Linked DNA regions of Homo sapiens: region 1 is linked to region 2. The links come from fine-mapping of genetic effects on gene expression. Tissue or cell type: whole blood. Region 2 holds a variant in brackets; the other region holds the start of a gene. All regions are shown on one strand. Distances are from middle to middle.

Region 1 (8,180 bases), 50 kb after region 2:
CAGGAATGTATTCCTAAAACAAAAAGATTTCCTCTTTAAGAGGAAAATTCTCATTTTGAATGATAATTTAAAAGAAGAAAAAGTCACACATTTCCTTCCCAAAAGTGATTTATTTTTAAAAAATAAAACACTTCACTAGGTTTTATAAACCAGGCATCATGTGAACTAAGCAGCTGGAAAGGAGCCTCGCAATACAGCCAAGTGCTGCAGCCGGCCTGTGAGCCTGCAATTCTATTGCGGGGCCGCTCCTGTCACATTCTGGTCCTGGAAAAATCATGCTGCCGGAGAGGATGCACATCCACATCGGAGACCTGAGAATCAGGATGTCCACTGACTTTTAACAACTGCTTCAAGAATAACAAGCTCTGAAGTCTCAGACTTCCAAATTAGCAAATTTACTCTGCTTTCCCAAATTCCCCCATGGTTTCAACTAGATCAAACAACTCTTCTCACTTCCTGTCTTGTAATAAGTTACATTAGTATGGCCATATAGCGGCTGTCAGTTTCACCAGTGCGACTGTTAATCTCAGAATGAGTAAAGTATCACACGTGGAAATCATAACAAGGCCCAGTTAAAAGTTGTTTAGGATCACAACTCCTGGGTTCTTCTAGTTCTTCCACATACTGGGACTTATACTTACGTTTTCACTGTGCAAAGGGGCCGGTATGTTGCATGAGAACTGAAATTCCAGAACAGTAGTACTACAGAGTATTGCAGGGAAAAACAAAAAATGTATTTTAATTCTCTTGGGAAGGGAAGTTGTTCTAGACGTGGTGCAGATATGAGTACAAGAGAAGGAACTCTTTGACTTGCTTTTTAACTTTTATCATAGTGTGTGGGTCCTCATTCTCTTCTCCAATTCCACAATTCCAGTGTTCATATGACTCATTCCAGACCTCATATGACACAGAAGTTAAACCAAAAGGCCCTCGCTTCTCATTTGAGTTATGCAAATAACCACAACAGTTAGAAGTTGATTGGTTCTTTTGGGAGAAAGTTCCTCTGTGTGAATCCAGGGCCGGTGCTGTCTGAACTCCTGTGCTGCAAATGGTGTCGTGTCCTGGTATCACTGACCTCCCTTGGACATCACCCCCTAAGTTCTTAACATCTATTCCTGAAGAAAAAGCTTAAAATGAAAACTGCCTCATAAAATGGCTCACTTAAATTCTTACAGGCACATGAGATTTCCCAATCTCATCTTTGCAAGCAGAGCTCATCAGTACCACTCTCTCACTATAAAGAACCACCTCAAACCTGAGAACTAGTACAGGTTCATGAGTTACCCCTGACTGGGAGAGTTAAATTAAGCATTCCTTAGCTTTTTCTACTTTTTCTTTTCTAAAACTTTATACAATCACTTTCTGATGCAACTCAAAGCAATGCAGATAACAATGGTTAGGATCAAGACCACCAGGCAAAAACAATCTAAACTCTAATTTGTGAGCAAAAAGTAGAATCAGAGCTAGAAAGGCTATATATAGTCATCGCAAATAGGATGACTTTCCCACGCAAGAGGTTCAAAAGTATTCCATTTGTCATTTTGCATGCAGCCAATTCAATAAATAGAAACCAGAATCTTATCAGATGGGAGAGGAAGTGAGTAATACCAGAGTTTTGATTTTTTTTTTTAAGTTTCTTAATGGAGGCTTTACACAATGGAAACAGGACTACAAAGACACTTTACGGTTTACATATATGAACTTTCCCACATTCACGAACCTGAAATGTGTCCACCACTCGGTGAAGAAACTCAATGACAAACAGAGGGGGGACCTCCGTCTGGATCACGGCCACAAAAAAGATCTTGTGGCGGTAAACACTTAAGAGATAGTGGTGAGGGGTAGGGATAACCGGAGGCACATTTTCTGCCTCAGTAGCTCTCTCTTGCGCCTCAAAAAAGTAATCACAAACAGAACGGCTGACCACACTTTTCCAATGTTTCTCCAGGAAAATGTCTCCAGAGGAGTTGATCAAGAAAAGACTATGGATCATGGTGGCGATTGTCAGTGACAGAAGAAAGCCTTTTTCAGTCTGAAAGCCTCAGGACTCTGTAAGTTTTCAACTCTAAAAACAAAAGCAGCGATATTCAGTTCCATTCAACCAAAAGGCCCTCCCCATCTTTTCCCAACAGTCCAAGACTTACCCATCTTTCAAGACCAGGCCCAATCTTCCCCTCCTGCATGAGCCTGAAGATAGCCCTCCCTTGAATTCGAAACGATAATGATCAGTCATCTGACTGTCAATCATATACTCCCAGTTATCTTTACTATCGCCCAAATTGCATCCATTTAAAATACTACTTATCTGTGGGTGTCTATTTTCTCAACCGAACCGCAAACTCCTTGAAGAAAAGGGCCGTGCCTCATGTTTTGCGTTGCCTGACTGCAACACAATCAGTGTTCTTTGAAGAGGGCTTCCAAGAACACTGAATTTGATGTCATGTTTTGGCAACAGCTCACACATACACAAGAAATGCGCAGCTTAATACGATAGCCACTATGGGACCAGCGAGCACTTGAAAGGTGGCTGGTGCGGACTGAGGTGTGCTGTTAAGTGTAAGACACACGACAAATCTGAAAGGCTTTGCATGAAAAAAAAAATTTCAAATATCTTACCAATAATTTAATATTGATTATATGTTGTAATAACATTTTGGATATCCTGGGTTAAATCAAATATATTAAAATTAATTTAACCTGTTTTATTATTTTAAAGTGGTTACCAGAACATGTACAATTACATATGTGGTTTGCTTTCTATTTCTGCCCACCAGAATTGGTGGGAGGAATGGAAAGCTGCCCTTGGGGGTCTTTATTCATCCAATCAGAGCTATTCTCTGAGCACTCCTTAGGCACTTGTTAATGCAGTAAGACATTTAAAAAGATCCCTTGGGGCTCCCGCCTGTGATCCCAGTACTTAGGGAGGCCTCCGCGGGCAGACCGCTGGAGCTCACGAGTTCGAGATCAGCCCGGGCAACAGAGGGAGAACCCCGCCCCCTCCACCTCCAAAAAAAAAAAAAAATTTCCCTGGGGGACAGACACCCCAAGGCCCTCAGACGGTTGCATCTCTCTGGTGCCAGTCGCCAGGATGTGGCCATTCCGCGAACCGGCGCGGGTGGTCAAAACGCAGAGGCCTGCGGTGCCCAGCGCCGCCTGGAGGAGACAGCAGGAGGGAGAGACAGCCAGGCAGCCCGGGGTGCGAGGGAGAGGCAGCGGCCTAGGCAGGCGGTCCCTGCGCAGGCCCCGGCCCAGAGCCGGCGGCGACGGAGGCCGCGGGGCGCAGGCGGGCAGGGGCCTGGCTGAAGGGGCACGCGCGTTCCGGGGTGAAGAGCGCAGGGGTGCCGGGCCGCGCCAGCGAGCGCACGTGCGCTGCCATGGCAACAGTGTCCCCTCCGCCCGCAGCCGCGGCGCCGGGAAGGACGCCCTCCCCGAACTCTGAACCCGGCCCCTCACCTCTCCCCGCCGCGTCCGCAGCCCTGAGAGGCCGCCCGGCTGCATCCTGAGACCCCGCCCCGACCCTCGCGCGCCCCCACTCCTGCCCCCTCTCCAGGCTCGGGGTCGTCCCTACTCCTCACCTGGCCTTGCTGCTCTCAGCGCCCACTGCTCCTAGGCGCGGACAGGCCCCGCCCCGCCCGCCGCGCGCGCTGAGGCAGCCGCTCGCCCGCTGATTGGCCGGCCCGCGGCCTGGCTACCGCTCCGCCCACGATCTGCGCCTGAAGGCCGCTGATTGGGTATCTGGGAGCCGCTCCTCCCCTCTGATTGATCGCTGTTGGCGGCTTGCCCTGTTGTCGGGCTCGAGTCCCCCGATTGGCCCTGTTGAGGCCACGGTCATCTCCGATTGGTACAGCTCCGAGACCCCGAGTCCTGATTGGAGGTCGAAGACAGTGCGTGCTGCTCGGCCCCACTCATCCAGTCACAAAGGGCTGGGGCGGTCGCCGCGCTCGCGTGTTTGCGGAGTGCGCCTGGAGGGGGCGCTGGAGTATGTGTGTGCCGGGGCGGGGTGGCTTCCGGGCACGAGTTGCTGACAGCGCCTCGCGGTTGATAAATCCTGAGGGCGGCGGCTACCCTGCACTCCATCGGTGCCTTTGGGAAGCGCCGCCTTCTCTGTTGTACCCGGCCGTGGGTCAGGTCGGCGCGGCTGGCGGTGGAGTCTCGGACACCGAGCCCTGGACCCCGACTCTGGAAGCCCCCAGCCCCACTGGGCCGCGGCAGGGCGCCCACCCTCCACAATCTCAGTTCCCAGCCGGGGAGTGAGGGGCTGGGCGGGTCTCTCCACCGCTTTGGAGACCTCAGGACTTGGATACGCTTTTGAGTGGTCCCAGTCGTCCTGATCCACGAAGGCGTGGAGTGGAAGTCAGGACCAGGGGTCGCCCCAGTGACGCAGGAAGTCAAGCCCAGATGCGGTGAGGCGTCGCCAGCCTTGGACCCAGCAGTGGGCGCTGGTGACAGTGGCGACCTCGCCGATGAGAGGTTCGCCCTCCCTAGCATTAGTTGTCACTTTGGTGAAATGGAGCGTGGGTGGCAGCTCCTCCACACACAAGCCCTTTGCTGAGGTGGTGCGGGGGGTTCTCTCCACGCTTGCTAAGGGCAGGTAGTTGGCTGACTTTGAACTATGAAGAAAAGCCAGAAACAAAATGGCAGAATGGTATGACTCTGGGTGGGCTTAGGGACGCTGGTGCCAGAGGACTTGGCTTGAACCCGCTCCAACACTTACAACCTGAGTGACCGTGAGAAAGAACTGTAACTCCTCTAAACTTCAAGTTCCTCACTTCTCAAATAAGAACGTGAATAGTACCTCCCTCCTAGAGTTGTGAGGATTGAGTTAGAAAATGCTAGCAATTGTTATGCCCTAAGGAACAGCACAAGATACAATAACACGTGATAATGTGTGTCGAAGGTGCAGAAATGCAGTCGCTGCCGTGAGAATTTCTCATTCATTCACTGAATTAACATTTGCCGAAAACCCCCACGTATCGACCTGTGCTGGATGCTGGAGATGCTGCAATGACTGCTGTCACAGGCATTGTCCCTGTGGTTACAGGGCCCAGCAGGAAAGACAAATGAGAAGCAAGGGATTGCAATGCAGTGTGATGAATAAGGAACGCATAGGGGGTGGGAGGAGTGCTGTAGAGATGGCTGACCTAGAGTCAGGGAAGACCCTCTACCTTGAAACCTGAAAATGAGAAAGGATCCCTCAAATGCAGGGATAGATGGACAGAGAAAAAAGTACATAAGGAAGGCTCTGCAGATGAGCAAGTTAAGTATAGCTGAGCTGGAATGGTAGGAAGAGCGCAGGGAGATCAGGCTGGAAAGGTAAGTAGGGAGCCTAGTGGTTGTGAACCTTGGAAATGTTAATATTTATAAAACACTGTGTGCCATACACTGTGTTTTATAATTTGTAAGTACCATTCCATAAATATTTAGTGAGCCCTACCATGCGCCAGGCACTGTTCCAGTGCTTGGATACATAACACCAGTAAACAAAAGACAAAAATCTCTTGGAGCTGGGCGCGGTGGCTTACGCCTGTAATCCCAACACTTTGGGAGGCTGAGGTGGGCGGATCACTTGACGTCAGGAGTTCAAGACCAGCCTGGCCAACATGATGAACCCCTGTCTCTACTAAAATTAAAAAATTAGCCAGGCGTGATGGCACGTACCTGTGGTCCCAGCTACTCAGGAGGCTGAGACGGGAGAATCGCTTGAACCCAGGAGGCAGAGGTTGCAGTGAGCTAAGATCGCACGACTGCACTCCAACCTGGGCGACAGAGTGAGACTCTGTCTCAAAAAAAAAAAAAAAAAAAAAAAAAAACCCTGTCCTAGTGAGGCTTATATTCTAGTGGGGAAAAGACAGATAATAATCAATATACATAAGTAAAGTATATAGTAGGTTATAAGATGGCATGTGCAATAAAAAAAAACTACCAGGAGTGTTATGGGATTGGAGGGCAAATTACAGTTTTTAAGAGAGTAGTGAGAACAAGCCTCATTGAGAAGAGACATTAGTGCAAAGATTTGAAGAAGGCAGAAGAGTTAACTATAGGGAGATCTTGGGGGAGAGCATTCCAGCAAAGGGAACAGGCACTGCAAAGCCTGTAAGGCCAGAATGCTCCTGGGGAGTTTCTGGAGCAGGAAGGGTGACAGTGTGGCTGGAGTGAAATGAGCGCAGGGTAAAGGAGGAGACAAGGTTACAGGGTGGGTGGCCTGATCACACAGGGGCTAGAAAGCTCTTTTAAAGATTATGGTTGTGAAAGAGAGAGCCCATGGAGGGTTTGGACAAAGGGGTGATAGGATCTGATTTATCAGTCATCTGGGTTGAGAAGACTGTGCAAGAAGACTAGTGAGACCGCTGCAGTGACCCAGGCGAGAGGTGATGGAGCTCAGACCAGGCTGTAGCCATGGAGGTGGTGAGGAGGAGGTGGACTGTGCGTGTAGTCTCCAGGAGGAGCCAGCTGGATTTCCAGATGGATGGGATGCAGGGAGTGAGAACAAGAGAGAAGGGAGGGCCACTGAGCTTCAGCATGGAGAAGGATAGTTTCATCAGCTGAGACTAGAAAGACTATGGGTAGGCCAAGCACGGTGGCTCATGCCTGTAATTCCAGCACTTTGGGAGGCTGAGGCAGGTGGATCACCTGAGGTCAGGAGTTCGAGACCAGCCTGGCCAACATGGTGAAACCCTGTCTCTACTAAAAATACAAAAATTAGCCGGGTGTGGTGGCGAACACCTGTAATCCCAGCTACTCGGAAGGCTGAGACAAAAGAATTGCTTGAACCTGGGAGGTGGAAGTTGCAGTGAGCCAAGATTGTGCCACTGCACTCCAGCCTGGGCAATAAGGCAAGACTCCGTCTCAAAAAAAAAAAAAAAGCAATCACAAATCTGATAATGTTTTAAGAGAGTTTATGAGTTTGTGTTGGGCTGCATTCAGAGCTATCCTGGGCCGCATGCAGCCTATGGGCCTTGGGCTGGACAAGCTTGCTATAAAGGAATACCTGAGACTCGGTAATTTATAATATTAAAAAAAAAGAGGTTTATTTGGCTCATGGTTCTGTAGGCTATGCAAGCGTGGCACCAGCATCTGCTCAGCTTCTGGTGAGGCCTCAGGAAGCTTTTACTCATGGCAGAAGGTGAAAGGGGAGCGGGCAGTTGCATGGTGAAAGCAGGAGTGAGAGAGAGGAGGTGCCAGGCTCCTTTAAACAACCAGCTCTCTCATAAACCAACAGAGTGAGAACTCACTCATTACCATGGGGAGGGCACCAAGCCATTCACGAGGGATCCAACCCCATGACACCTGCTAGACCCACCTCCAAAACTGGGGATCACATTTCAACATGAGATTTGGAGGGGACAAACATCCAAAGTATATCAATATATCTGTGAGCTCCATTAACTATCCAAGTGGAGATGTTGAGAAGGCAGCTGGACATATAAGTCCAGGGTTCAGGAGAGTGGGCTGAGCTTGAGATATAAATTTGGGTGTTTTCAGTATATGGATATTTAAAGTAGTAGGACCTGTTGAGATGACCGAGGGAAGGAGTGTGGAGAGATAAGAGAACCAGATTCCAGGGACACTCCAAATTTAAGAGTTCACATAAGAGAGGAGGATCTGAAATCATTTAATCCCCCCAACTACTCTAAAATGAATTACCGTTGTGATCCCCTTTTCGTAGATGAGGAAGCTGCAAAGACAGCTTAAATAACTGCCCAAGGTCGAACAGCAAAGCTGTGATTCAAGGACGTTGGAAGATCTGAGCAGAATGGCTCAGATTCCACACTTCCTACCTCTAAGCCCAGGAACCCATTGAAGAAATGTGAAGCAGGAGAGTGGCACACTTTCAGATTTCCATTTCAGAAAGACTATGTGTGCAGGATGGACTGTAACAGGCTGAGCCTGGAGGCTGGGAGGTTATTTAGACAATTGCAGTAATCCCTAGGAGAGAGCTAGTGCCTGGAGCCATGAGGCAGGGATTAGAGAGAAGTGGACACCTTCCAGAGAAGATAGGGATTAGGGATTAATGGAATGTCAGTGGTGAGGCAGAGTAGGTTTCTGATTCGGGCAATGACATGGATGGAAGCATCATGTGTTGAGATGGGGATCACTGGAAGAGAGGCCCCTTGCGGGGAGGGCGCATGAATCCAGTATATAGCAATGCCTGGGGGCATGAACCAAGTTGACACTCAAGT
Region 2 (8,180 bases):
ACTCAATCCATGACGGTCAGCATGAGCTGCTGGGTGCGTGCTTCCTGTGCAGGCAGAGTCGGACTCCAGCACTGGCAGGGACACTGTGAGTATTGAGATATGAATAGCTCCATCCTGCCCACCCATTTATTCCACCTAAAATGTTCTCAAAGATGCAAGCCTCCAAGCTCTGGATCAAATGATAAAGCCCCAGATCAAAATCTCAGGAGCAAATGAAAGCTGCCCTTGTCTCCAAAATGCTCCTTCTCTGCCCGACTCCCCAAGACCAGCTTGGTTTATTTCACAATGACTCGCGTCGGATTCTCCCAGTGTCTGCGGCTCCCCCTGCTTCATCACAGGCCTGGGACAGTCCAGGCAGCCAGGGAATAGCTGGGAATAGCAGTTCCCCTTTGTTGGTTTTTGAGTTCACTGAGGCTTTGATTTCCCCCAGGGCCTGACGTTGCTGAGCAGAGCCAGCGGCCAGTAGATTTCAAAGGATTCCAAAAAACAGTCAGGCACTCCTTTGTGAACCCAAAAGTATCTGAGACAGGTCTGTCAATTTAGAAAGTTTATTTTGCCAATGTTAAGAACACACATGTGACACGGCCTCTGGAGATCCTGAGGACATATGTCCAAGGTGGCCAAGGTATGGCTTGGTTTCATACATTTCAGGGAGACATGAGACATTAATCAATGTATGTAAGATGTGCACCGGTTCGGTCTGGAAAGGCAGGACAACTCGAAGTAGGGGCTTCCAGGTCATAGGTAGATAAGAGAAGGCTTCATTCTTCTGAGTCTTTGTCAGCCTTTCACTGAATACACAATTTACATATGAGAGGGGGGCAGAGGAAGAGTCACTTATGCCTTAGTTGGCTCAGTGAATCTACTTTTTTTTTTGAGACGGAGTTTCACTCTTTTTGCCCAGGCTAGAGTGCAATGGCATGATCCCGGCTACTGCAACCTCCACCTCCCAGGTTCAAGTGATTCTCCTGCCTCAGCCTTCTGAGTAACTGGGATTACAGGCGCCTGCCACCACACCTGGTTAATTTTTGTATTTTTAGTAGAGACAGGGTTTCACCATGTTGGCCAGACTGGTCTTGAACTCGTGACCTCAGGTGATCCACCCACCTCGGCCCCCCGAAGTGCTGGGATTACAGGCATGAGCCAACATGCCTGGCCTGAATCTTCATTTTTACAAAAACAATAGGGCAGAGGAAGCAATCAGATATGCGTTTGTCTCAGGTGAGCAGAGGGATGACTTTGAGTTCTGTCCTTTGTCCTGTACCCATTTGCATTGCCAAGGTGAAGTTCAGCAGAACTGTTTTAGGGTAAAGATCTTGAAGTCCACAAGGAGTTTCCTTGTGGGTAAATTGTGAGAGAGGTATGTAGCCTTTTATCTTTGTAGCCGTCTTATGTAGGAATAAAATGGGAGGCAGGTTTGCCTCATGCAGTTCCCAGCTTGGCTTTTCCCTTTGGCTTAGTGATTTGGGGGTCTTGAGATTTATTTTCCTTTCATACCTTGGTAGTGTCACTTGAAGCCACCACGCCCGGCTAATTTTTATATTTTTAGTAGAGACAGGGTTTCACCATGTTGATCAGGCTGGTCTCGAACTCCTGACCTCGTGATCTGCCCTCCTCCTCCAAAGTGCTGGGATTACAGGCATGAGCCACCATGCCCGGCCAATTTTTCTTTTCTTTTTTTTTTTTTTTAAGATGGAGTCTCGCTTTTTCACCAGGCTGGGGTGCAGTGGCACAATCTTGGCTCACTGCAACCTCCACCTCCCAGGTTCAAGCGATTTTCCTGCCTCAGCCTCCCAAATAGCTTGGATTACAGGCGCCCGCCACCACACCCAGCTAAGTTTTCACCATGTTGGCCAGGCTGGTCTTGAACACCTGACCTCAAGTGATCTGCCCGCCTTGGCCTCGCAAAGTATTGGGATTACAGGCGTGAGCCACCATGCCCAGACAGGTTTTTCTTTGATTATTTGGCATTATGCACCTGCAGTCTCAGAATAAATTTTTTACTTTCTCTGAGTGATTTTCGCTTCTGCTTTGATGAGATTGTTGGGACGGACAATAAGGGACCAGTGCATTCTGCTCATTCCTTCTTGGGGCCATTTCTTTTGTATATACGGGAGAAAATGTCTGTCTATAGTGTCAGGCTATAAACCTCGTCCTAGTCAAGCAGCTCACAAAACCATATGGTGGGTCTCACATCAAACCAGGTAAAAGAGTGAGGATGATTTAGACTCAAAGAAAATTAGAGCTAGAAATAAATTTAAAGCTCATCCACCCTGCTCCAACCCTAAGTCAAGCCACATGGTCTTCCGATAGTGGCTCAGTTTTCTACTTACATAAAAAGACAGCACATTCTCTTAGCAATATGTGTTTGTATGTGTGTGTGTGTGTGTGTGTGTGTGTGTGTGTGTGTATATATATATATATATATATATAATTTAGAGACAAGGTCTGACTCCATCACCCAGGCTGGAGTGCAGCAGTGTGATCGTAGGTCACTGAACCTTCAAACTCCTGGGCTCAAGTGATCCTCCATCTCAGCCTCCCAAGTAGCTAGGACTACAGGGGCATGCTGCCATATCCAGCTAATTATAAAATTTTTTTGTAGAAGCAGAGTTTTGCTTTGTTGCCCAGGCTAGTCTCAAACTCCTGGCCTCAAGCAACCCTCTTGCCATGGCCTCACAAAATGCTGGGATTACAGGCAAGAGCCACTGTGCCCAGTCCCTCTTAGTGATATTTTGCATATTATATATTCAAAAAATATTTTCTATGTATGCCACTTGGGAAACTTCTGTAGAATGGGATAGAGGGACAGATAAACCCAATTCTTGATCCACTCAAAAATAACACCTGTGACAGAGTGAAGATGAAACAGGTGCTGGGCACACAGCAAGTGTTTTAGAAACATTTTTGAACTCAACTTTGCCTGAGTTGTGGTGCTGATCATGGCTGCCAGGAAATGCTAGCCAGCTGTTCTTCCTATACAAGTATATGACTGGGTGTCTGCAGCAGCTGCCCGGCTGTGAATTGCACACACCAATGGCCAAGACCCAGCAGCGACTTGGCTAACAGGCCCAGCCGATGTGCATGGGTGACCACGCGATGCTCCTGACACA[C/T]GCACTGGTGGCTTAGGGAAGTTTTTTTGAGGATTGATCAGAAGATCTGATTCCACCTGGAGCCTCTGAAGTGATCACTTCCAGGTTAGGCTGAACCCAGATACCAGGAGACCTGTGTATTGAGAGCCTTTTGTTTTTTTTATGTAGTCACAACTATTCCATTAACATACAGCTAGGCATTAGAGAATCCATGCTGGACTCCTACAAAGGCCCCTAGATCCTTAGAACACTCAGAGATTCCAAAGCACACGTCCTCCCAGGACACCCTGGCAGAAGAGCCCGGGGGCGACTGTCACCTTTGCCTGCTGTCGGGAGCTGTGCTGATGGGTAGGGGGCTCTGTGCTTGCTGTGGCCCAGAGCCAAGCCGTGGGGATGTGCTCTGTCTGGAGCAGACCCCTTCACTGTCTGCCTAACTCCTTCGTGTGTTCCCGGAACAGCTTCTGTGTTATGCATTCCAGAAAGCCTGCCTGACCACCCCAACCTCAACAAGCCTGGGATGGACAACCTCCTCCACATTCCACTCCAAGCCCACCCCCGTCCCCACCCTGCTGCGTGGTATGGCGCTGCTCTGCTGTACCCTGAGTGTCTAGTTATTCATCAGGCCCCTTCCTAACTATGAGCTCTTTCAGGATAAGAGCTGTGTCTTTGCATCACCAGAGCCTGTGCCAGGGCACGGCTGGTGCTCCATACACGTTGATGGTGAATATATAGCATGGGTAGATCATTGTCTGTGAATGCTTAACAGAGAAGCAGCTCATGTGGGTGCTTGAGGGCTGGGGGGGCAGGGTGGGGGTCTGGTAGGCGCTGGGAGGAGGACATCCCTGCAGCTTCTCCAGCCCCATAGATGGGACTCTTGATGTGGGCAGTTTTTATTTCAGCTGAGTCTCCAGAAGGCAGGGGACAGGGACTGGGAGGGGATGCTAAACCCGATAACCCAGTATGGATGAGCTAACAGAGGCCGGGCACACAGCTCCTGCCTGTAATCCCAGCACTTTGGGAGCCCGAGGTGGGCGGGTTGCTTGAGCCAAGGAGTTTGAAACCAGCCCGGGTCTTGAACATAGCGAAGACTCTGTCTCTACAAAAAAATGAAAAAAAAAAAAAAATTAGCCAGACATGGTGGCACGCACCTGTAGTCCCAGCTACTTGAGAAGCTGAGGTGAGAGGATCACTTGAGCCAGGGAGGTTGAAACTGCAGTGAGCTGTGATCACGCCACTGCACTCCAGTCTGGGTGACTGGGCGAGACCCTGTCTCAAAACAAATAAATAAGAAAGAGAGACTACTGGTCAACTTGATTTCTGCTGGTTATTCTCTTTCTGTCATGTTCACCAAAAAGAGAAACCCGTTGTATTTTATCTTGTTGTAGCAAGAGCCGGTGTCTAACACCTGGGCTACTGAGAGAAAGCGAAGGGTTTTTTTCTGGGAAGCTCCAATTTCCTTATTTCTCTCACATGATGCCTCTGACTTTCATAGTGTGGCTTGGTCAGATGGGCCTTATCAATAGAGATGGCCTGATGTCTCAGCTGTGTCATCTCAGCTGCTAGTTCTGGCTTCTGCTGGGAGTCCACAGTGGCCTCTGCATGCATGGTGTGGGAAAGGCAAATAAAAAAGCAGATTAAAAACCAGATTAAAGACATCACCCTGTATTCAGGAAATAATGGCTCCTGTTGATACTGTTCTACGAACACAGATGAAGGCACAAAATTCTACATCAATTGCAGAGAATTGGTTATAGGCTAACACAGGTGGTCGGATGATCTAGGAAGCAGGATTCAGTATTAACGGGGATCCATGAGGACCCCATGAAGCGTGGCATCTCTTCTGCATCAGCAGCTTCAAGTTGTTCCAGGGAGAAGCGGGAAGCCTCAGTGCTTTTGTTGAGGAAGGATGTTCATGACAGTAGGTGCAGGTCGCTCCTGCCGTGCACCCAGGTGTGGGGGAAGGACTTTCCTGCTTCTTTTCCAGTTACCTTACAATTCAGCAAGACGGAAATGATTAGCCCATGACAAAAACCAGGAAACAGGCTCAGAGAGAGTGAGTTGCCCACACAGAATGTGTGCTGTAAATGCAGTTAGATTTCCAGGTTGAGAATCCAGTGACCACGCCCCTTCTTTGTGGCATTCTGCTGTCGTATACCATGTGGAACACATTAAGAACGTTATGGCCAGGCGTGTTGGCTCACGCCTGTAATCCTAGCACTTTGGGAGGCCAAGGTGGACAGATCACCTGAGGTTGGGAGTTCGAGACCAGCCTGGCCAGCATGCCGAAACCCTGTCTCTACTAAAAATACAAAAATTAGCCAGGCATGGTGGCACACACTTGTAATCCGAGCTACTCGGGAGGCTGAAGAAGGAGAATCGCTTAAACCCAGGAGGCGGAGGTTGCAGTGAGCTGAGATTGCACCGTTGCAATCCAGCCTGGGCAACAGAGTGAAACTCCATCTCAGAAAAAAAAAAAAAGTTACAATTGGGTGTCACATAGACAGTGAGGAGTAGTGGAAAGAGTGTTAGATTTGGGGTAAGAGAACTGTGTCTCCTGGGCTTGAGTCCTGATGCCAACTCTCACAAGATGTGTCACCGTACAGCACGACGCTTATACTTTTTTTTTTTTTTTTTTTGAGACAGGATCTTGCTCTGTCTCAAGCTGGAGTGCAGTGGTATGATCACAGCTCACTGCAGCCTCAAACTCCCAGGCTCAGGCCATCCTCCCACCTCAGCCTCCCAAGTAGCTGGGACTACAGGCATGTACCACCATGCCCAAATAATTTTTTGTATTTTTTTGTTGAGATGGGGTTTTGCCATGTTACCCAGGGAGGTCTCAAACTCCAAGGATCAAGCCACCCACCCTCCTTGGCCTCCCAAAGTGTTGGGATTACAGATGTGAGCCACCACACCTTGCAAATTTTTGTATTTTTTGTACAGCCGAGGGTCTCCCTATGTTGCCGAGGGTGATCTTGAACTCCTGGGCTCAAATGATCCACCCTCCTCAGCCTCCCAAAGTGTTGGGATTACAGACGTGAGCCACTGCTCTCAGCCCCTTACACTTTTTTGAAGTTCAGTTCTCCCATCTGTAAAAACGAGGTAATAATATTGCCTCAAATGACTTAATGGATGTGAAAGGGTTTAGTAAACTCTGTGCCTGGAAAGGTAGAAGCTACTCAAATATCTGTTGAGTGAGTGGCATTCATCCATGTGTACATTTCTCAGGCAACAATAATGTCACTTTCACCTAAGGCCAGTAAAATGTGGGTAAAGTCATATAATGATACAATGAAAGTTTCTGATCAGTATTTCCTAATTCAAGTGTGTTGAAATGTGGAGTTGGGCTGGAGAATTGTCAAATCATTGCGTATTTAATTACCTTGTGGTGATGTTTGCTTTAGGGAGTGGAAGGAACATGAGGAACGAACGACCTTCATCACGGAAGATGACATTCATTTCGATTCACTTTAGATTTCAGGGCTTGTTTAGATGCAGACTTTGCAGTTAACATTTTATTGCACTGACTGATTTAGTTTTCACCAGGTGGTCCTTGTGTTTGCTTCAGAAGGATCTAAGTGTATTAGGACAGGGTTTCTTCTGTTTTGATTGTGGGAGGAGGCGGGATAGACTTCTGTTTTCCTAGACCCACAACCAAAATTCCCCACTCCTCCAAATAACCGGGATTACCAGGCAGAGGGTGGAGCATTGAGGAGATGACAGCTGGACATGCCTGCTGTAGCTTTTTCTGAGTTTAATTCCATATAGCTTAGACACAGGCCATATGCCTACATTTGGAAGATGTTTTGGAGAAAATTCTGCTCTGATGGGTGGGGGGCAGGGTCTGCCAGGAAAATATTCTATTCTTTTGAAGACATGGGGTCTTGCTATGTTGCCTAGGCTGGTCTTGAACTCCTCGCCTCAAGTGATGCTCCTGCCTCAGCCTCCTGAGTAGCTAGGACTACAGGTGCAAACCACCACACCCAGCTCTGAGAGGATGCTATACTCTTCACTTCATTGGAATTGGTGAAATTAGATAAGAAACAGACTCTTCCTCTCTTCTCCCCTAGTTATAAACAGTTCTGTTAAGAGAGGGAAAATAACCATTTAGCCTATAGAAAATCACCTTTTCGAAAAGTTAAGAATTACTTATGTGATGGTAGTTTTTGAAAGTGGTTTTTATTCTGAGATCATGGCCTCTGTACTATGCAGGGCCTGGAGAAGTGGGATGAGAGCTACCAGGCTCAAAGCTCCTGTCCCGAACAAAGGGTTGCTTTCGTGGGAGCACGCCACCCTTTCCAAGGCTAGTTCCTCTCCCAGCATCTCACTTCAGCTCTCGTCCTGCTCTAGAAACGTGCCTTTGCTGGTCCAAGGAATCCTGGCCGTTTCTTTTCTTAATTGTTGGCATTCATCTGGGCTATGGTGGTTGTGGCGGGGGTGGCAGTGGAGAGTGTGTTGTTTTAAATCCATGAGTCATTTTAGGGTATTGGTACTCTTGAAGACTGACTTTCTCTTGCTCAGGTTTTCAGAGAGACCTTTTGCTAAGCAACAATAACCTAAGAATCTCCTTGACCAAAGATAAATGTAGCAAACTTTGCACATGGTGCAACATTTGATAATAGTATCAATTTACGTTTGTCTTTCCCTTGCAATTTCCCTCCTCCTCTAGCTTGCTCACGTTTCTGCCTTCTTCTTGCTGGCAAGAGTACAGACTATAATTCTCCAGTTCACTAACATCTGGAGCGACTGCACTGTTTGCAATTTCATTGATTGACTACATGTGTACAGTTCCTTTATTGCAAGTCACTTTTCTGTATAATCTTTTTTGAGACGAAGTCCTGCTCTGTCGCCCAGGCTGCAGTAGCGCAATCTTGGCTCACTGCAACTTCCGCCTCCCGGGTTCAAGCGATTCTCCTGCCTCAGCCTCCTGAGTAGCTGGGATTATAGGCGCCCGCCACCATGCCCAGCTAATTTTTTTGTATTTTTAGTAGAGATGGGGTTTCACTATGTTGGCCAGGCTTGTTTTGAACTCCTGACCTCAAGAGATCTGCCAGCCTTGGCCTCCCAAAGTGCTGGGATTACAGGTGTGAG

Evidence for each region. PIP is the estimated chance that this variant, and not a neighbour inherited with it, causes the effect.
Region 1: AP3M2 starts here. The variant in region 2 is fine-mapped to the expression of AP3M2 in whole blood (TOPMed, PIP above 0.99).

What each region holds. Positions count from the first base shown.
Region 1 is chr8:42,148,501-42,156,680 of GRCh38, reverse strand. It overlaps AP3M2 (adaptor related protein complex 3 subunit mu 2), which reads right to left and starts at 3,618. Exons shown (of 9, transcript NM_006803.4): 1 at 3,576-3,618; 2 at 1,721-2,065. The coding sequence starts at 1,993. RefSeq lists a silencer at 3,103-3,712 and an enhancer at 4,543-4,662.
Region 2 is chr8:42,198,223-42,206,402 of GRCh38, reverse strand. The region is part of intron 1 of PLAT (plasminogen activator, tissue type); the gene reads left to right. Among named protein-coding and RNA genes, the nearest start is that of PLAT, 5.3 kb to the left of the region's middle. The variant C/T (reference allele first, on the strand shown) is at 3,114.